3 linked regions of the Homo sapiens genome follow. The protein of the gene in region 1 interacts with the protein of each later gene in a pairwise test. Each region holds a gene or a part of one and is shown on either strand. Other genes may lie near its edges.

Region 1 (7,037 bases):
GTGACCTGATGAAACGGCAGATCCTGGCCTGGCCCGGGACACCTGATCCAGCATCCTTGAACGGCCCTGCACATACAATGATGGACACTACTGTCCACACCACTGTCGCTTCAAGGATCAATCCACTGGTATTTATCAGAGGAGATATTTTTTCTTTTTTCTTTTTTTTTAGACAGGGTTTAGCTGTCACCCAGGCTGTAGTGCAGTGACGCGATCTCAGCTCACTGCAACCTCCACCTCCTGGGCTCAAACCATCCTCCCACCTCAGCCTCCTGAGTAGCTGGGACTATAGGTGCATGCCACCATGCCCAACCAATTTTTGTTTTTGGTAGAGAAAGGGCTTTTCCATATTGCCTAGGCTGGTCTCAAACTCCTGGGTTGAAGTGATCCACCCGCCTCAGCCTCCCAAAGTGCTAGGATTACAGGTGTGAGCCACCACACCCAGCCAGAGGAGACATCTGATCACAAATCCACATTTTAGAAAACCACGCAAGCAGACTACGTTTCCAGACCATACCTACTTGGGGGTAGATTCTGTGGTTTTGCTTTGTTTCTCGTCAGAGGTAGACAGATGCCACTTTGCTCCTGCCCTTACCTGTGCCGAAGTGGGTCCTGGTGCAGGCCGCCTTCTTCACCAAGACCTTCTGCTCCTTTCCTCCTCCGCTTCCTGCTGCTCGCGTGGTGGCCGTCCGTAACACATCCCACCTGCTGGCCATTCACCTGTGGCTGTGTGCCATCTTCCTGCCGTCTGACAGCGGGCAGCTGTGCCTGGCCCTCCCTCCTGTACATGGGGCTCCCAGGCTGTCTCTGTGTCTGCCCCTCCTGCAGGGCGCTGGCAGCTGTGTCCTCCGGGCGCTTCTTCTTCTTCCTCTTCCTCTTCCCGTGGGGAGCCGCAGTGGCCTCCCTGATGTGCTGTGGGAGGCGCGTCTCTGAGCCCAGCCTCTGCGGCTCTCCCACAAAGGTCTTTTTCCTCTTCTCAGAGGGGCTCTGGGGGGGCTCACTGGCCTCTGGCAACTGGTGTGGAAGAGACACAAGGTCCTCGTTGACCTGAGGCAGCGCCGTCGAGATGGAGGAGCAGCTCCGTGGTTCTGACGTCCCTGGGGGCTTGGGGGTACTGGACAGCAATGTGGGGTGGGGGCTGAAGGGGGGTTGCAGGCGGCTGGATGATTGGGGAGCAGGTGACACAGCCCTGTGGGGACAGCCAGGAAACAGGGAGAGGATGTTCTGAAAGACCCAGCAGAGCTGTTCCTTCTGTCTACCCTCACTCCCCTCCCTTTCACCTAAAAATCTGAAAAGGCTTTTACCCTGTAGTTTTCAGATACACATTAAGTTACATGTATGTTTGAAAGAAAGCTAACAATTAATTCAACATCTATTTAAATGCAAAGTTGGCCAGGTACAGTGGCTCATGCCTATAATTCCAGCACTTTGGGAAGCCAAGGTGGCTGGATCACCTGAGGTCAGAAGTTTGAGACCAGCCTAGCCAACATGGTGAAACCCCATCTCTACTAAAAATACAAAATTAGCCGGGCGTGGTGGCACACGCCTGTAATCTCAGCTAGTCAGGAGACTGAGGCAGGAGAATCGCTTGAACCTGGGAGGTGGAGGTTGCAGTGAGCCGAATCGCGCCACTGCACTCCAGCCTGGGCGACAAAGCAAGACTCCGTCTCAAAAAAAAAAAAAACCAAAAAAACAAAAACAAAAACAAAAAAAAAAAAACAAAGTTACCTAGGTGGTGGGTTGATAGGTGCAGCAAACCACCATGGCACCTCTGTAACAAACCTTTACATCCTGCACATGTACCCTGGAACTTAAAATAACTGATCCCTGAGATTTAAAAAAAAAAAAAAAAAAAAAAAAAAAAGCAAGCCAACACGTGATTTTAAAAGTCAAAAAAAAAATTTTTTTTTTTTTAAAAGGCAAAGTTAATAAGAATTGTTCCATGCCTTAGTTTCTTGTCACCAAGCAATTCAAGTATTTTTGCGAGCTCTAATGTAAAAACATCTTTAATACAAATGTGTTAAGGGAGGAAACCTTCACGAAACAATAAATGGTAAGGAAAAAAAAGATCCCGTGAGGATTTATTTTCCAACCTCCGAAAGTCTCAGGGTGTTCCCGGGCAGGAAATGAGCCTCATAAGGAAAGCAAGTGTTGAGCTGGCCTAATGACACCTCCACATTACCGTCATTAGGACGCTGAAACCGGGACACAGATGCGTAGAGCAGAATCATGAGCAAGGCGTGTCCGGGACAGGATCTAGTGCCGAACCCAGTGAGGCTCCCTCTTGCCAGCTATGTGTCTCTAGGAAAATTAACTTCCCACTCTGAACCACCATGTTCTCATTTGTCAATGAGCTGGGACCACAAAGCCCACCTCCCAGGGTTCCTGCAGAAAACAGGACCCCCGTCATCATCTAAACAAACTATAAGGGCCATGCCAGCTGCACGATGTTTGATTACTCTAAGTGTCTTCTGGAATCTTTTCCAAAAAAGCTTATAAGGCAAGAAACGAAAAACACCCAAACACTTAAGGCCCTCCCACGTACACAAATCTTATGCTAGGTATAGGGCAGAGGTGTGCTTGTGTGTGTATATGTGAGAGGAGAGTAAGGCAGAGGCTGTGGGCGACGCACAGTCATACCTCGCCCTCATGTAGCACTGGAGATTCTAGAACTAGAACCCAGCGCCGAGGCCACCAGTACAGTCCCCGCAGGCCGCCTCATGACTCACCCCATCTTTCACTGCTTCCGTCCCCACTCCCAGCGGCTTCCAGACAGCCATTTACCAGTTACTCTCAACTTCCTGCCACTCGAGGCACCTAAGAGACGCAGGCAGCCCCTGCGGACCAGGGCCCACATGCACAGGGAAGGGGCTGCATCTCTGGCAGGTGTCTGCAGAGGAACCCGAGAGCCCTGAGACAGTTCTTAACCTGCATGACGCTAGCAGGCAAGACGTCCCACAAAAAACGCTCGGGACTCCGAGCTCACTCAAGCCTCTCGCCAAGGCCTCACTTCGCCTTTCTCTTCGACTGGGAAGTACTGTCATGGGGCTGGTAGGGATACAGGACAGGTCAGTCCCCAGCACACCACATCACCACAAGGATGTCGCAGACAGACCACCAACAAAGACAGAACTAAGACATCAGGACTGCAGAGGCCGAACTGCCTTCACCACCCAAAGCTCCTTTACCACAGGGGAACACAGAAGAGGGGGATCTTGGTCAGTGACGCCCCCCTGTACCTCCTGGCTGCCCCAATGCTTTGTCTGTCCTGTGAGGTTGGCGATTCGTCCAACTCCTCACCAGCCAAGCACACGCAACCACAGGGAGAACCAGTTGGCACCCAGAAGATCCCGGCCCAAAGCTTACCTGGCTCTATGGACGGGCCAAGTGGAGGCAACGACGGGGTGAGAGGTTTTCATGGGGTGGGTGAGGTCGGAGGATGGTGAGGGGGGAGGTGGACGGAGGTCATTGCCGGTCGCCCTCCACAGGGTGCTGGCCTGCAGTTATCGACATAAATAAAAACTTGGTGGTCTAAAAAAGGTTTCCGTGAGTGAAGAGGGAAAACAAAAGTAACAAAAAATGAAAATAAAAACAAAAGAGCCCAGAAAAAAAGATGAGGAGACAGAAGAAGACAAAAAGGGGAGGTGAGGGGCAGGGGAATGGTAGAAGAAGAACCAGAAAAGTATTTTTGGTTAGAAACAAAAAAAAGGAAGAAAATTTAAACAAAAATCTCAGCACAACAATCACATCCACGTGCCGTGGCTGCCCAAGCTTCCTGCTGCAGAGGTGCCGGGCACCCCACTGGGGCTCTGCGCTTCCTGCCCGCCCCACCCCTGCTAGGGACACGTGCTGGTGGGGCCCACCCTCCCTCGGGTTCAGTCAGGATCTTCCACCTACTGTGAAAACAGGGAACTGCTACCTTGCCCAAACCTCCATGAGTCACATGAGCATCACCAGATCAGGGCTCTCTCAACACCCCATACTGCCTTCACCCCAAGATAGCCGTTCTTTAATTGCAAATGGCTGGGAACGACTAAAAGACACTTTGTTCCTCTAACATGAGGGAGGCCAAAGCCCCCGGACAATGTTCTCACTCCCTTCAAACCACAACCAAGCAACTCTTGGAGCTCTCCTGATACACAGCAGCGGCGAGACCCCCACACACCCACCTTCTTGGCAGAAAGGGCCAGTTTTTTGGCTGGTGGAGGAGACATGGTGCTTGCAGGCTCAGTGGTGGTGTTGCTCAGGACAGGGGACTTCAGCTTCACCGTCTTAGAATCTGCTCCACTTGGCGGCGTTTTGGAGTGGCCAGCGGTGGAACAGTTCGTTTCCTGAGAATCGCAGAGATGGGCCGCTCCACTCCTGGGGGTCTGGGGGGCCTTGGTGGAGTCGCTGCTGGCCGAGTGCTCTGGGCTGGAGCTGCTGGAGCCCCTCCTGTCGAGGCCAGCGCTCTCGTCGTTCCCCTTCAGCCCATGCCCGTTGGCAGTGGCTGTAGCCAGGAGCTTAGGTGAGGTAGAGAGGACAACATCCCTGCTGTCCCAGGAGCCCTGCCTTTGGCTCCCAGATCTGCTGCTATTCGAGTTGCTGGTCCCAGGCAGCCCCTGAGCAGTTCTGGGGGAAAAGTGCTGTGGAGGAGCTGGCTTCTTCACCTTCTTTCCAGGGTCGTCTAGGATGGTTGGCATGTGTGTGGGTGTCTGGGAGAGTTTGGGGGAAGGGGACCCCGAGGGCAGCTTTGGAGGAATGCAGCCGTTCTGGGACTTCAGGCCCAGGGTGGAGCCATTCCTGGATATGGGCACACCAATCTCTTCAGTGGTGTGCGGCTTCTTCATCGTCCCAGAGTCTTGTCGCTAAGGAGACCAAAGCAGAAAACACAACTGAGGAAGCGAGAAGTCTCAGCTGGGCCACATCTTCTTAAGGCCACAGTGAATCTTAGTAGCAGGCATGGCCTCTGATTAGCATGCTCAAGATAAATTATTTATCTGGACTCTTGGTAAAGACACTGTGGCTTCTCTGAACAATTCTGGTGTTCTGTGACATCCCAAGAACAGGGACCACAGCCGTGTACCACCACACCTGGCTAATTTCTGTATTTTTGACAGAGATGGGGTTTCACCATGTTGGCCAGGCTGGTCTCAAACTTCTGGCCTCGAGCAGTCCACCTGCCTCAGCCTCCAGAAGTGTTGGGATTACAGGTGTGAGCCATAGCACCTGGCCTGAATACATATCTTTATGGCCACCTTTACTATAAAACCAGTACATTTTCATCAAGATTTGGGAAGAGAAAAAAGTATAAAGGAAGAAATTTAGCAAAGTTCCATCACCTAAACATAACCATGCATTAACATTCTAGTGCTTTCTTTTTTCAATCTTTTCTTCCAAATGGTTCTGGCCTGAAGAGTTGCATCCCAGTTTTATCTTAAAGCTATTATCTCAAGCATTTTTATGGGCGATAACTCTCAATAAATATCTTTAAGACAGAGCCTTGCTCTGTTGCCCAGGCTGGAGTGCAGTGGCATGATGATGTCATCATAACTCACTGCAGCCTCAACCTTCTGGGCTCAAGAGATCCTCCCACTTCAGCTGCCCAACTGGCTAGGACTATAGGAGTAGACCACCACACCCGAATAATTATTACTATTTTGTAGAGATGGGGATCTTGCTATGTTGCCCCGGCTAGCCTTGAATTCCTGAGCTCAAGCAATCCTCCCACCCTGGCCTCTCAAAGTGCTGGGATTACAGGCCTGAGCAACTGCACCCTGCCTGTCGGCCTGTCTTTGACATTTTACTATATATACTATGTACTACTGATACACATTAACTGTATGGTTAATTTATATAAGCTATATTGTCTCCAACTGTTGAAATTAAAAATACTGTACAGTATATGTGTGTGTATCCTTTACCCTTCAGAGCACTTATTACAACTGCATAGAAATAACTTATTATTCTGTATTTAGATGCTGAATGTCAGCCTTCCCCTGCTTGACCAAGAGGCTGTACCCGTTATCTCTCTCGTTCCCACTGCAGCCCTCACCAGCAACTCAAGGGTCTGGTATAGAGTCGGTGCTTAAAAAATATTTGTTGAGCTTTTCCTGTACTTAGTACTCCATGCTAATTTTCTGGAAATGGAATTACAAGGCTAATTTTCTGGAAATGAAATTACAGATTTCATTTTCATGAAATCTGATGCAAAATGCCAAACTGCTTTTACTATACTCCAGCCACATCTATTTTTCAAAACATTTGCTAATTTGACACTCGTTTGGGCTATTACCACTTTAACATTCATATTCTCTGCACATGCACTAAAGTGATCTTCATTTGAATGAGATCTTTTGTTTACAAATGTTAACCTTTTGTTGACAATATTTTACAAGGTTTTATTGCTTCATTTGTTTGTAGTAAATTATGTACAAAAATGTAAATCTTAGTCAATTCATAATTCTTCTACATTTTATCCTTCAACTTTAAGCATACAAAGTCTTCTTCCCTTCCCAGAGGTTAAGAATTTACCTCTATTTTCTTCCAAGTTTTGTTTTGTTCCCTACATTCTATTCTTTGTTAATACTGTTTTCTAAAAGGAATTCATCTTTCCACTGCACCGCAAAGCCGTTTCACTGGCTGAACATTTCCATACACACTAGAACTTGCACCATGTCATTTAGAGTAAAACGGCTCGTCTGCTTGCAGTGTATTTGGAAAATCACGTTTGTAATGAAAATGCTCATGGTCAGTGAAGCGCCCCTGCAGGTGTGCCTGACACAGGGACTCTCCTTGAGCCAATCTCCACCCTCGGGCATCACTCTGCCCATGGAGTTCCTGTGGCAAGTGGGGCTTCCTTTGTTTTTCTGGGGTTTTTTGAGACAGGGTCTCATTCTGTTGTCCAGGCTGGAGCGCAGTGGCACAATGATAGCTCAATGCAGCCTTGTGTTTAAGTGATCCTCCTGCCTCAACCTCCAAACAGCTGGGACAACAGACGTGCACCACCACACCTGGCTAATTTTTGCACTTTTTTTGGAGATGGGGTTTTGGAGATG
Region 2 (7,037 bases), on another chromosome or scaffold:
CCAGCACTTTGGGAGGCCGAGGCAGGCAGATCTCTTGAGGTCAGGCGTTCGAGACCAGCCTGGCCAACATGGTGAAACCCCGCCTCTACTAAAAATACAAAAAATTAGCCTGGCGAGGTGGCAGGCGCCTGTAATCCCAGCTACTCAGGAAGCTGACGCAGGAGAATTGCTTGAACCTGGGAGGCGGAAGTTGTAGTGAGCCAAGATTGCGCCACTGCACTCCAGCCTGGGCAACAGAGTGAGACTCCATCACGCACACACAAAAACACTCAAAATAAATTATAGCTCTCTCTACAAAAACAATTCTTAACCAGTATGTCTTGATCAGTTGTGAGGGAGGTCACTAGTAATTTATTATTAATAATTTCAAGTAGCAAAATTTATTAATGATTTTTATAAACAAAAGGCCATGACATTCCCTCATTTTCCTTCTAATGTGCTTTCCACAGGGAGAGGAAGGAGTGTAGCTGGGACTCACTTACAAATATCAGCCTTTCTGGTCATGCAGCTCTACAAATAACCTGACTCTACAGATCGGTGCTTACAAATTTTTTGTGGCTTTTACAAATTGTTATGCCATGTCACTGTCCCAAAAGAGCTGTTCAGATTCTGCCAAAATCTGGGTCTATCCTGTGAAGTGAGCCACAGATCAAGAGTATTCCAATGTCAGGGGTAGAAGAAGGGGCAGAGAATGACTGTTGTTGATGTGAAGGTATCACTTTAAGTTCAAAGTCCCAACCCTCTGCCAGACAACTCATGGCTCTATTTCCCATACTCTTCAGTGACATTTTTTAAATCCAATTAGGCTCAACAGCAAAGTATTTGGTGAGCCCAGCCTGGCACTTCCAAGCCGAATATTTTCATATACTCTACCAAAGAGCCCCAGAAAGGCAGAAGGTCTGGAAACCTGAGATCTAGTCCCAGTTTAACCTCAAATGCTCAGCAGAGGAGGTAACAGTACAAGCTCTGAAATCAGTCTCTGCTTGTATTTCTTTTCCTCACTCTTGTTCTATAGCTAATTTTTTTTTTATTTTAGTACATATAATTATCTAAGCTGATATTAATTCTCTGTAGAATGAAGCAGGGTTAATAAGTAAAACATTTGGCTGGGCATGGTGGCTCATGCCTGTAATCCCAGCACTTCAGGAGGCCGAGGCAGGCAGATACCTGAGGTCAGGAGTTCAAGACCAGCCTGGCCAACATGGTGAAACCCTGTCTGTACTAAAAACACAAAAATTAGCTGGGCATGGTGGTATGTGCCTGTAATCCCAGCTATTTGGGAGGCTGAGGCAGGAGAATCACTTGAACCCAGGAGGCGGAGGTTGCAGTGAACCGAGATCGCACCACTGCACTCCAGCCTGGGCAACAGTGAGATCTGTCTCAAAAAAAATAAATAAAAATAAAACATGTTTGTTAATGTACCTATAAAATTACGTGTACTTAATTTTATGAAATATCAGGACTTCTAAAACATTTTTACTTACACAAGACTCTGGGTGTTATCTGTTAAGATTTGCAAATTATTACATGTTCTTAAAACACTGTTAGTTTTCCTTATTTCTAGTTGAATGCTTTACAGTAGAGCATCTCTCCCAAATGAAATCACAATTTTTAAATCTAACCTGTTGTTCCTTGCAGTGGATCCTGATTTGGACAAGCAGCAATTTGTAAGTGTCCCCGTTCCTTATTGAAACCAAGCCAACCCCAACCTGAGCCTTGGACACCAACAGATGCAGCCGTCAGCTTCTCCTTAAACTTGTCAAAGGAACCAAAGTCACGTTTGATGGCTTCCAGCAACTCCCCTATTAAAAAAAAAATCCAAAACCACCCACAAATGAACAGATTTCAATAATTACAGTAAAATGTTATATTACATGTATTAAAATATTTTTGTCATAGGGCCCAAGAAATTAGACAACATCAGAATGCGACACCTGGATCTAAGTTTCACAATTTTAATTCACGTTTTTGTTTTTTATAACTTCAACTTTTTTTTTTTTTTTTTTTTTTTTTCATTTTTTACCTTTTGAGACGGAGTTTCACTCTTGTTGCCCAGGCTGGAGTGCAATGCCATGATCTCGGGTCACTGCAACCTCTGCCTCCCAGGTTCAAGCAATTCTCCTGCCTTAGCCTCCCGAGCAGCTGCGATTACAGGCACGTGCCATCACGCCCGGCTAATTTTGTGTTTTTAGTAGAGACAGGGTTTCTCCATGTTGGTCAGGCTGGTCTCAAACTCCCAACCTCAGGTGATCCACCCGCCTTGGCCTCCCAAAGTGCTGGGAATACAGGCGTGAGCCACCGTGCCCGGTTCAAATTTTATTTTAAATTCAGAGGGTACACGCACAGGTTTGTTACACGGGTATCATATGATGCTGAGGTCTGGGGTGCAATTGATGCCATCACCCAGGTAGCGAGCTTAGTATACAACAGTTTTCACCCCCCGTCCCCTTCTTTCTCCCTCCCTGCTCTGTCCTCAGTGTCTGTTGCTGCCATTTTTATATCCATAAGTACTCCATGTTTAGCTTCCACTTGCAAGTGAGACATGTGGTATTTGGTTTTCTGTTCCTGGGTTAATTCGCTTAGGATAATGGCCTCCAGCTGCGTAGTTCACATTTTTTAATGAATCGTGTTAGAGGGATTTCCCCACTCACTGTACTATCTTTGTTAGGAAAGAAATACTACTTTCTGTTAGCTTTTTCTTTTCCCTGAATAGAAAATTTTCCTTTGACTTCTACCCTCCTTCTTCTACGCCTCCATTTGGGAATAAAGTCATTGTTCTTCTCCAAGGCAGCCCAGCTCTTCCTGTCTTGATGGGCAGTTTTCTCTACGACTGAACTAAGGGTATACTTTAAGAGCTGTAATCCTTTTATTCTGTAGTAATACAGAATATAATTCTAGATTAGTCACATCAACTAAATCAACTGGGTCAAAATCTCACTTCTCTTATTCTACGGGTTTAAAAGTAATCATCTTTATAAGCACAAATGATGGAATGTGGTACAGATTAAACAAAAATGGCAGCATACCAAAACCACTGGTTGCATATGAATATATCTGATATTCTGGTAACTGACAAAACTTCAAAAGTATTAACCGATAGTCTAGAAGACTGAACTCAGAAAAAAAATAAGTTGGCCAGGCACGGTGGCTCACACCTGTAATCTTAGTACTTTGGGAGGCCGAGACAGGTGGATCACCTGAGGTCAGGAGTTCAAAACCAGCCTGACCAACATGGAGAAACTCCTCTCTACTAAAAATACAAAAAAATTAGCCGGGCATGGTGGCAGGCACCTATAATCCCAGCTACTCGGGAGGCTGAGGCAGAGAATCACTTGAACCCGGGATGGGCAGAGGCTGCAGTGAGCCAAGATCAAGCCACTTCACTGTAGCCTGGGCGAAAGAGCTAAACTCCATCTCCAAAATAATAATAAATAAAAACAAAAATAAAGAAAAAGTTGCCCAGTTTCCCAAGCTTACTCTCCTCATTCATCATTACCTTAAAATGAAATTGCTTATTTCAAGTGCATAAGATAGGCTGCCTTCCATAACACTGATTAAAAATGAACAATAAAACCACAGAAACTTAGGGTGCATATCCGGAGCCCAGAAACAAGAGACAAGAACTACATTTACGCCTCATGCCCTCCCTGGGTGAAGAAGATAATTAAAGTCATCTGGGCCTCCACAAGCTACACAGGAAGTCAAGGAAACAGTGATAGCGAACAAGACCATCTAGCCCTGTACTCTCCTCATTCCCTGAACACTTTTTAAAAATACCCAGAAAACCTAATTTCCTGGAACAACTGACTTTTTATCAGTTAGGAAAGAGTGAAAAATAGCAAATGACACTATAATTTAATTCTCAAAACAACACCATTGTTATCCCTGTATCACATAGATGAAAAAAGGTACAGACGGTTAACTATCTAATCCAGGCCCTAGAAACTAGTAGACAGAAAGTTCATCTTTTCTAGACTGGCGCGGTGGCTCACATCCATACCACAGCACTTTGGGAGGCCAAGGTGGGTGGATCACTTGAGGCCAGGAGTTCGAGACCAGCCCCGCCAACATGGTGAAACCCTGTCTCTACCAAAAATATAAAAATTAGCCGGGAGTGATGCCACATGCCTGTAATCCCAGCTACTTGGGTGGCTGAGACACAAGAATTGCATGAACCTGAAAGGCGGAGGTTGCAATGAGCCGACATTGCACCACTGCGCTCCAGCCTGGGCGACTGTAAGACTCCGTCTCAAAAAAAAAAAGTTCATAAAATGAAGTCTCTCAGTCTTTCCCTAATATGAAGTACCATCCAGAAACCAGAAGGTGGAGTTGATGTGATATTCTATGTTGGCGTGAACATAAAATCTTATGACATAACCCCATGAAAGCATTCTCCATTCCTACTTGTGTCCTTTTGAAAGTTACAACTTTTATCATACTCGTTGTTATGAAAAATATGCCACTATGATACCTCTGGTAAGAATAAGGTAACTTAGGCCAGGCACGGTGGCTCATGCCTGTAATCCCAGCACTTTGGGAGGCCAAGGTGGGCAGATCATGAGGTCAGGAGTTCAAGACCAGCCTGGCCAACATGGTGAATGAAACCTCATCTCTACTAAAAATGCAAAAATTAGCCAGGCGTGGTGGCGGGCGCCTGTAATCCCAGCTACTTGGGAGGCTGAGGCAGGAGAATCACTTGAACCCAGGAAGCGGAGGTTGCAGTGAGCCAAGACTGCGCCACTGTACTCCAGCCTGGGCAACAAGAGCAAAACTCTTGTCTCAAAAAAACAACAACAAAAAAAACAAAAAACAAGTATAAGGTAACTTCAGTAAATCAACAATCGATTCCTACTGTGCACAAAATGTAGATAAGGGTGCACCAATATATACCAACCTTTGGGTTCTCCACCACCGTTAGGGCTGAGGTTTGTCCAGAAAATGCTATGATTGATATGACCACCACCATTGAACTTCAGTGCAGGCTGAAGAGCTATCTGGGCTGTAACATCTCCTGAAAAGTTAAAATGCAAACACATTTTTTTGTAACTCCTACTTTTTCAACCACTGTATACATTATATTTTTTTCTTTGTAAGCTATTAGATAATGGGACCAGCTTATCTATAACATCCGTTTGTCCTAAAATTCAGCACCCCCCCGCCCCAAAATTATTTGTCCCAGACATGCTGAACAACTGATGAAGGACCTAGCAGAGGTGGAAAAGCTAGAAAATTCACTCCTGGCTGCTAGGCTCAGGGATCTCTTAGATAGAAGAGATTTTAGGAAATGAAACACCAAAGAGGACAATCAAAATAATAGAATGCTAAAATGTATGGCTCAACATACAGACTGTACAGAAAACCTTCAACTCTCACTTTCAAGACAGACGACGATTCATTGGGAAATATCTCCAAGTCACATTAACAAGAAACTCAACATACTCAAAATTGAACTCCTGATGTTCTACCCCAAACTTACTCCTCCTATTGTCCTCCACGTCTCAGTAAATGCCAGCTCTGTCCCTCAGGACATCCTTGGGAACCTGATGTCATTTTTGACTCCTCTCCCTTCACCCCACATCCAATCCACCAGCATATCCATTAGCAAAGCCAGCTCTACCTTTAAAATACATCCAATCTATATAAAAGCACACAGAGAAAAATAAAAGAAAAAAATAAAACACAAGCAGAACCTAATCCCTTCTCCCTAACTCTACTGCCACCTCATTGGGACAGAGGACCAGTATTTCTCACTGCACTGGTGCCACTATCCCCTCAGTTTTGGGGGGTGGGGGTGGGCCTTGCCCCCTCCAAAGGCTCCCCTTCTCACTGGAGCGAACCCTAGGTGTTTACACTCAGCTACTCTTACTACCAAGAGGCGCTGCACTTGACCCCGTCATTGAGCACGTGCTCACGCAGCTGCAGCCTCACTGGCCTTTTTGCACTCACATGACCAACTTGGATGTTCCCCTCAAGGCTAGCTGAGCACTGCTGCCTCTGCTGAACACTCTTCCCCAAGACAGTCTCATGCTGCGTTCCTGTTCCTCCTTCAAGTCTCCACTGAAACATCAACCCCATCAGTGAAGCCTTCTCTAGCCACCATACATGAATTAGCAACTCCCTGCCACCCCTCCCAGACCCTTTACTCCTTCTCAATAGGCCCTGTAACTCCTGGCATACTGCATGGGTACCTTGCCAAATAAGTAGGCAAAATAAAATAGTCTTTTCTATGCCTTCAAGAAGCTACAGACTAAATGAACTATTAATATTAGAAAAAAATGGAAATCCTCTTGTTTAATAAATATTTTGTGCATATTATCCACAAGATACCAAGAGAAGCAAAGTAAAGGACACAGAGACCCACTGAGAGCTTTGCTCTCAAGGAGCTTACATTTTGGAAAAAGTTCTCAACTGCTGTTCTGAAAGTGTACGTTAAGAACATATGTCTGGGCCGGGTGCGGTGGCTCACGCCTGTAATCTCAGCACTTTGGGAAGCCGAGGCGGGCAGCTCTCTTCAGGTCAGGATTTCAAGACCGGCCTGGCCAACATGGTGAAACCCTGTCTTCACTAAAAATACAGAAATTAGCCAGGTATGGTGGCGCGTGCCTATAATCCCAGCTACTCAGGAGCATGAGGCAGGAGAATGGCTTGAACCCAGGAGGCAGAGGTTGCAGTGAACCAAGAACACGCCACTGCACTCCAGCCTGGGCGACAGGGCAATACTCCGTCACAGAAAAAAAAAAAGAAAGAGAAAGAAAAAAACATACATACAAGGCCAGGTGAGGTGGCTCACGCCTGTAATCCCAGCACTTTGGGAGGCTGAGATGGGCGGATCACTTGAGGTCAGGAGTTCCAGACCAGCCTGGACGACATGGAAAAACCCTGTCTCTACTAAAAAACCCACAAAAAGTAGCCAGGCGTGGTGGCGTACGCCTGTAATCCCAGCTACTCAGGAGGCTGAGGCAGGAGAATTGCTTGAACCCAGGAGACGGAGGTTGTAGTGAGCCGAGATCACATCACTGCACTCCAACCTGCGGGAC
Region 3 (7,037 bases), about 73 Mb from region 1:
TTAGGGATACATACGCATATAGTAAAACAGTGAAGAAAAGCAAGGCAATTACAAACAAAATATGGAAGAGTGGGTACCCCAAAAGAGTGGAAGGAGGCGAGGGCAAGTGGGTGGGGGGGACTCCTGGGGGCTTCAATTGGGTACACAGGTGTTAGATTTTAACCATTCCTTACACCTTATGTATCTTCTTCATTTGTATGTAAGAATTTAGCAATGAAAGAAAAAAAATCAAGCACAGAACAATACTCAATGTGTGTTGCTATTTGTGTTTTAAAACATACTACAGGCTGGGCGTGGTGGCTCACGCCTGTAATCCCAGCACTTTGGGAGACCGAGGTGGGCGGACCACCTAGGTCAGGAGTTCAAGACCAGCCTGGTCAACATAGTGAAACTCCATCTATACTAAAAAATACAAAAATTAGCCGGGCATGGTGGTGCACACCTGTAGTCCTAGCTACTCGGGAGGCTGAGGCAGGAGAATCACCTGAACCCGGCAGGTGGAGGTTGCAGTGAGCTGGGATCGCACCACTGCACTCCAGCCTGGGCAACAGAGTGAGACCCTGTCTCAAAACAAAAACAAAAACAAAAACATACTACAGCAGGGGCTTGGTGGCTCACACCTGTAGTCCCAGCTACTTGGGAAGCTGATGTGGGAGAATCACCTGAGCCCGGGAGGTTGAGGCTGCAGTGTGCTGAGAATGTGCCACTGCACTCCAGCCTGGACAACCAGAGTGAGACCCTGTCTCAAAAATAAATAAATAAATACATAAATAAAATCAAACACACTACATATACTCATATATGCATACATTTGCTCTAGAAGTCTACTAGAAAATGGTTCCAGTGGTTGTTCTAGGGGAAGGAAACTGTGAACCTGAGGATCAGGGCAGGACCCTTGTATACCCATCAACTGGTGACTTTGTGTTTTCTTTCCTTCTTTTTTAAACCAATTGCATTTCTTAAGAAAAGGGGGGGCAATAAAAAGAAAAGGAAAATGGTGCGTTGATGAGAGGCCAGGTGCCAAAGCCAATATCATAAATATTTCCAATTATTTTCTTCTTCTGTAGAGAAATTACTAATGAACAGGAGAGATGGATCAAATTCCAGTTAAAGGCAAAGAAATGTGATCTTTGCAGTCCCTGTGCTGATAAAAGTACAATTTCATTACATTTCTGTAGTATCCCAAGGACTCGCATGATGACCTTCACTGGTTCCAGAGGTCAAGGAACTTTATTGATGGTGCTGATAGTACAGAATCTATCGTTTCATAGCTAGGAACACTGGCGCATGCCTGTGGTCCCAGCTACTTGGGAGGCTGAGGCGGGGGGATCGCTGGAGCCCAGGAGTTGGAGGCTGTGATGGAGCCTGTGAATAGTCACTGCACCTCCACCTGGGCCACACAGTGAGACCCTGTCTCTTTAAAAGTCAATCAATGTATCTATCTATCATTTCATGATTTTCAGATGCTTCTCTAATAACTAATGTTGTCATCCACAAAATTAAATAAACAAAAGGAGATGACCAATATACTTTATTTTTTTGGAAGTGTCCATTTGTTGTTGTTTGTCTCCTCACCCACCTTCTGCAAAACTGTGGATTTCACTTACCTGGAGATGGCTTCGACATGAAGTCAAAGGTGAGCACATTTGGGACTTTCATTGCTAGAAGCTGAAGCATCACACTGGCCAGGTTACACCTGTGAAGAGCATGAGACCAGGGTCATGACCTGATCCCTCTGCCATTGAGTCAGAACCCCTCATGGTGGAGTGTGAGTAAAAACTGCAGCTCTGGGCAAGCAGGAGAGACATGGTGACAAACAGCAGCAGTGCAGGAGCAACTGGTGCCTACCTCTGGATCTCTGGCACGGTCATCTTATCAAACTTCTCAAACTCGTCCTCCGTGTAGAGCCGGTAGCAGATGCCACTGTCCTCTCTGCCAGCCCTCCCTGTGCGCTGCCAAGCCTGCGTCTTCGATACCCGCTGCACTGCTAACACCTCAAGACCACTGTCTGGATGGAGAGTGAGCCCCATTAGTGCTTCATCACATGAACAAACTCTTTCTACAGTGTCGATAAAAAGAAGCACACCAGTGGTTCTTTCAGCAACACGGGGGTCCAGAAAGCCTCAAGGCTAGCACAATGGACAGCACAAAACCAGACTGCTCCGCAGCGGTTTGGCCCTAGTGAAACAAGGCTTTGCCATAAGCCCACTGTGAAATCTGTTACAAAAACATCAGAAAAACCTCACGCATGCAGCAAGGGGCGAGAAGAGTAGTTTCCGAGGTCTTGCCTTAGATGGTAGGATGGCCAACCCCTCCAGTTTGCTTGGGACAGAGGGTTTCCTGGGATGTCGGATTTTGGGTGCTAAAACTGGGAGTTTCAGCAAACTAGGATGGGGGTCATACTATCAATCAATGACTACGAAATTAAATGCCTCAAATCACTTGTGTGCTTTATCCTCCCTCCCAGTTCTGCTGTAAGACAGAAATAATGTGATGTCTGTTTTCTAGCAGTAAATGAGGTTCATTTTCTTGATAAAGGTGTATCATTAGCCTGGCACTGGAGACCCAAGCTCTTTCACCTACGTCATCACAAAAAGATACACCTGTGGAAGCCAGGACCCTCAAATGTTTACTAGAGCATTTCAGTTCAATAATTGGGAGCAATAATTTCAGTGGTCTCAAATCCTCTGTGGAATAAAGCAAAGTATAAAACAGACATGAGTCAAGATGACCTTAAGTTAGCTTCTCACTGCACCTTCTTAGGAGAAGCCAGTGCTCCTTCCATGCCTCACCTCAGCCAGGAGATCTGGTTCCTTCCTGAGAAACCTGGGAGCTCAAACCAGCCATATATATATAGTTTCTGATGACACCCTTTGATTGACACCCAGCTGTCCCTGGCCTTAGAGCCGACTTCTGATGGGGTACCAGACCCTCTGCCCAGGTCCCTGACCCTGTGTGCCCAAGTTTGCTCAACCTGGGCTCTTCTTTCCTGCCTCTACTTCCTGTCTCACATACCCGCCTCAGGACTCCTTCGCGGACCTGGAGTGTAGGTGATCTCACTCATGGCGCCTGCCACCTGAATTTGTTAGTTACAAACATGAAACACTCAGGGGAAAACTGTGGGACTACAGTTTCAGTGGCTGCTCACTAGACACAGGAGAGACATTCATGAACTACAAATTCTCACCAGGGTTATACTTCTTTGCTTTAACCATGCCCGTGTCAACTACATATTTTATTCCTGTAATGGTTATGGAGGTTTCAGCGATGTTGGTTGAAATGATCACTTTGCGATAGCCCTAAAAGGAGGAAGAAAACCAAAAAGCCGCATTGACACACGGATGATTCAGAAGTCTTCAAACATATTCTCACCATTAACTTCCACAATTCACTCTTGACCAACAGAAGATGACTCCATTATTAATGGCAGTCATTAATATTAATGGTTGGTCATTAAACCGGGCAGGGGAAGGGGACGCTGCAGTCTTAAAGGTCAATTTGAGGCAATGAGATGCAGTGGAACAAGCACAGGAATCAGAAGCAAGTAGATGTGGGTTGGAATCGTGGCCCTGCCAGTGACTTACTATGCGCCCCCTTGAGCAATTGTTACTTCCCTTCTTGGGGCCTCAGGATCCCCATGGGATCATAACCTGCCTTGCCGGTTCCCACGAGGATGACAGACAGTGGATATAAATGCTAGCACAGTGCCTGGCACGGCAAAGGCACACAAGAAATGGCACTATGGACAAATGCAATTTATGCTGGTCCTTAGAAGTCACTCGTTTACCTTGCAGCTTTGGTTTATACTCTCCCTCATCCCAACAACTGTCTCCCTGCTCCTGTCACAGGAGCGCTGCGTGTGTCACCGCGCATTTTATTCCTGCACCTCCTCAGTGCGCTGATCTGGCACCTGGGTATCCCATCCCATACACCTTATCTGGAGCCTGGTAACAGGTACAGACCTCGCTGGTGGATCCGTCTGGGTGCCCAGAATAGGGCTGGACAGAAGAGGTGGTGCACTCACCTTTGGGGCCCCTTGGAAGACTCGGAGCTGCTGTGCATAGGGCAGGGAGGCGTACAGAGGAAGGACCAGCATCGCAGGGCAGCCGTCTGGGAGGTGCTTTGCAATGTCTCGGCACGTCTTGCTCATGGCTTCGATCTCCTCCTGCCCAGTGAGGAACACCAGGATGTCCTGTGAAGAAGGGGCTTCCTGTAAAAAAAGTAGAGTGGGTTTACTAGGCATTGATAGAATTGCAGCTTGCACAGAAAAAGACAATGGTGATTGATGATGTTTCCCAGAGTTATTTCTCTTAACTATAGAAATGTAAATGAGCCTAAAAGTTGATGTCTAGCTTGGAGAGAACCCTTACCAGCAGTGTGTAAATGGTAACAGGCTGGGTGTGATGGCTCACGCCTGTAAACCCAGCACTTTGGGAGGCTGAGGCGGGAGGATCGTTTGCAGCCAGGAGTTTGTGACCAGCCTGGGCAACGCAGCAAGATCCCATCTCTACAAAACACTTTTTTTTAAATTGGTCAGGGGTGGTGACACATGCCTATAGTTCCAGCTGCTTGCCACTCCACTCCAGCCTGGGCGACAGAACGAGAACCTGACTCAAAAACACAAAAAACAAAACTGTAATATATAGGAGTTAGCCAGCTATGTTTATAGGCCAAGTGATGAAATTTTGAAGGGAAATCATCAGATTGATTTTTCTAACAAGAACAATACCATGAAAAGCATAATCAGGCAAGCAAATAAAATCTGCATGAAGCTTCCTTTCTTTTATAAGCATCTTGAAAAATGAAGTTGACAAAACAGAAGGAAACTTGGGGAAATCCTAATCTATGGAAATGAACAGGCGCAGCCATGCTGGAGAAGGAGCCTTTAATGAATGACGCCGTCGAAAGCGCTTTCACACGCCCCAAAACACACACTATACTCGGACAACTGCTTGAGATACTGAGGTTAATGGGGTTCCTCACTTTCAAATGGAACAACACCCAAGTGTGAATGACATACCTAATGCCCTGATTTTTCTTTGATTTCTGATCAGATACATTAATTTGTTTGATGTAAAGTGCTTAACACTTTGGGAGGCCGAGGCGGCCAGATCACCTGAGGTCAGGAGTTCGAGACCAGCTTGACCAACATGGTGAAACCCTGTCTCTACTAAAAATACAAAAAATTAGCCAGGCGTGGTGGCGCACGCCTGTAATCCCAGCTACTCAGGAGGCTGAGGCAGGAGAATCACTTGAACATGGGAGGCGGAGGTTGCAGTGAGCCGAGATTGCATCACTGCACTCCAACCTGGGCGACAGAGCAAGACTCCATCTCAAAAAATAAATAAATAAAATGAAGTGCTTGATGGACTGGGCGCAGTGGCTCATGCCTGTAACCCCAGCACTTTGGGAGGCTGAGGCAGGCAAATGGGTTGAGGTCAGCAGTTTGAGACCAGCCTGTCCAACACAGTGAAATCCCATCTCTATTAAAAATACAAAAGTTAGCTAGGTGTGATCCCAGATACTCAGGAGGCTGAGGCACAAGAATCACTTGGACCTGGGAGGTAGAGGTTGCAGTGAGCCGAGCTCGTGTCACTGCACTCCAGCCTGGGCGACACAGTGAGACTCCATCTCAAAAAAAAAAAAAAAAAGTGCCTAATGGCAAAATAAATAGAAAAAAATTTTAATAATTATATGTATATTTATGTATATATGTAAAAATACGTATTTTTTAATATGTATTTTTTTTCAGCCCAGTATTAACAGAACAAATGTGCAGAGGGATACACAGACAGGATAAAATCTAAAACAGTCAAAACCTCATGAGTGGGAGAATTCATCAAAGCCAGTGGTAACCTAATGCACCAGCAGCCATCATTCATGAAAAATTCTCGTTTGCTTTCTGCAGCTGAACAAGGCAGACTTCTTCCCCAAACACTATGAAAACGACAGTAAAGGCCACTGTCTTAGAAAGAAAAGGCAATGAGAGATGAGGAGTCTCAACTCATTTTGGAAGAGAGGGGAAAGGGGCTGGATGACTTGGCTAGAGGGAGGAAACTACAAATTATGTTGTGGGAGAGTGAAAACTCAGGGATTGGTTCAAAGTCTGAGTATAGAGTAGTTAAAGCCTTCAGTTCCCTCTCCTACCCAGGACGGCCAGGAGACTGGGAAGCCATGGGTCTCACCACGGGAAAATGGTGACAAAGTGAAGAGTCAAGATGACAGCTGCACAAAGGCCCAGGAGAGCCACCTGCCCCAACTGGAACAGCAGCATAAAGGACTCTGAAAAGACAGACTGTGCTTGAACACAGAACTATACACGACTGGCATATGAGATGTTGGAATATTTGGGAGAAAATGAGCCAGAGCTACCCAGAAAGCTTGCACAACTGTGTTGTTCAAGAAACAAGGTACAGGGATGATGGTGTGCTACTAGCAATGTGTGGTCATAATATTCTTAGTATTGATACTGGACTCAGAAAACATCATAATAGGCCAGACACAGGTGTGCAAGCATGTAGTCCTAGCTACTCCCAATGCTGAGGTGGGAGGACTGATTGAGCCCGGGAGTTCACGACCAGCCTGGGCAACACAGCAAGATCCTGCCTCAAAAACAAAAACCTAAACAAAAACATGATAGAACTGTCAAGAGGTTGGAGATAAAGGGGGTTGGGGAGGGGCATTCTAAACTTTTGTCACCATGGTAAGAAATTAGCATATGATGCCTGATACCCATAACTCAAAAAATAGTGGTCAAAGCAAGGTAGTTTAGAAACATGAAAGCAATATGTAGAGATTGAAAGTAGGTGCCCTAAACAGCAGAAATCTGGGATGTTGAAGTAAAAACAACTGCTATTCTTTTATTATAAACCTTTTACTATAAACTACTTGACTTTTTAAAACTTTAAATCCCATATGCATCACTTATTTTAAAATAAAAATTGACTGGGCACGGTTTCTCACATCTGCAATCCCAGTGCTTTGGGAGGCTGAGTCGGGAAAATCACTTGAGGTCAGGAGTTTGAGACCAGTCCGGG

The links. Proteins that work in one complex are often made in the same cells at the same time.
Region 2: the proteins of USP36 (region 1) and SOD2 interact in a two-hybrid assay, tested with the Homo sapiens proteins (one study listed by BioGRID).
Region 3: the proteins of USP36 (region 1) and DHX33 interact in binary tests that used the Homo sapiens proteins (3 or more experiments, as listed by UniProt).

What each region holds. Positions count from the first base shown.
Region 1 is NC_000017.11:78,802,790-78,809,826, forward strand, and holds part of USP36 (ubiquitin carboxyl-terminal hydrolase 36), read right to left. Parts: intron 4,848-7,037; coding exon 4,170-4,847; intron 3,532-4,169; coding exon of another isoform or gene 3,498-3,531; coding exon 3,367-3,497; intron 1,190-3,366; coding exon 596-1,189; intron 67-595; coding exon of another isoform or gene 1-66. UniProt on the Homo sapiens protein: Deubiquitinase essential for the regulation of nucleolar structure and function. Required for cell and organism viability.
Region 2 is NC_000006.12:159,683,232-159,690,268, forward strand, and holds part of SOD2 (superoxide dismutase [Mn], mitochondrial isoform A precursor), read right to left. Parts: intron 5,012-7,037; coding exon 4,895-5,011; intron 1,803-4,894; coding exon 1,623-1,802; intron 1-1,622. UniProt on the Homo sapiens protein: Destroys superoxide anion radicals which are normally produced within the cells and which are toxic to biological systems.
Region 3 is NC_000017.11:5,451,973-5,459,009, forward strand, and holds part of DHX33 (ATP-dependent RNA helicase DHX33), read right to left. Parts: intron 4,211-7,037; coding exon 4,025-4,210; intron 3,300-4,024; coding exon 3,188-3,299; intron 2,009-3,187; coding exon 1,849-2,008; intron 1,697-1,848; coding exon 1,608-1,696; intron 1-1,607. UniProt on the Homo sapiens protein: Implicated in nucleolar organization, ribosome biogenesis, protein synthesis and cytoplasmic dsRNA sensing. Stimulates RNA polymerase I transcription of the 47S precursor rRNA.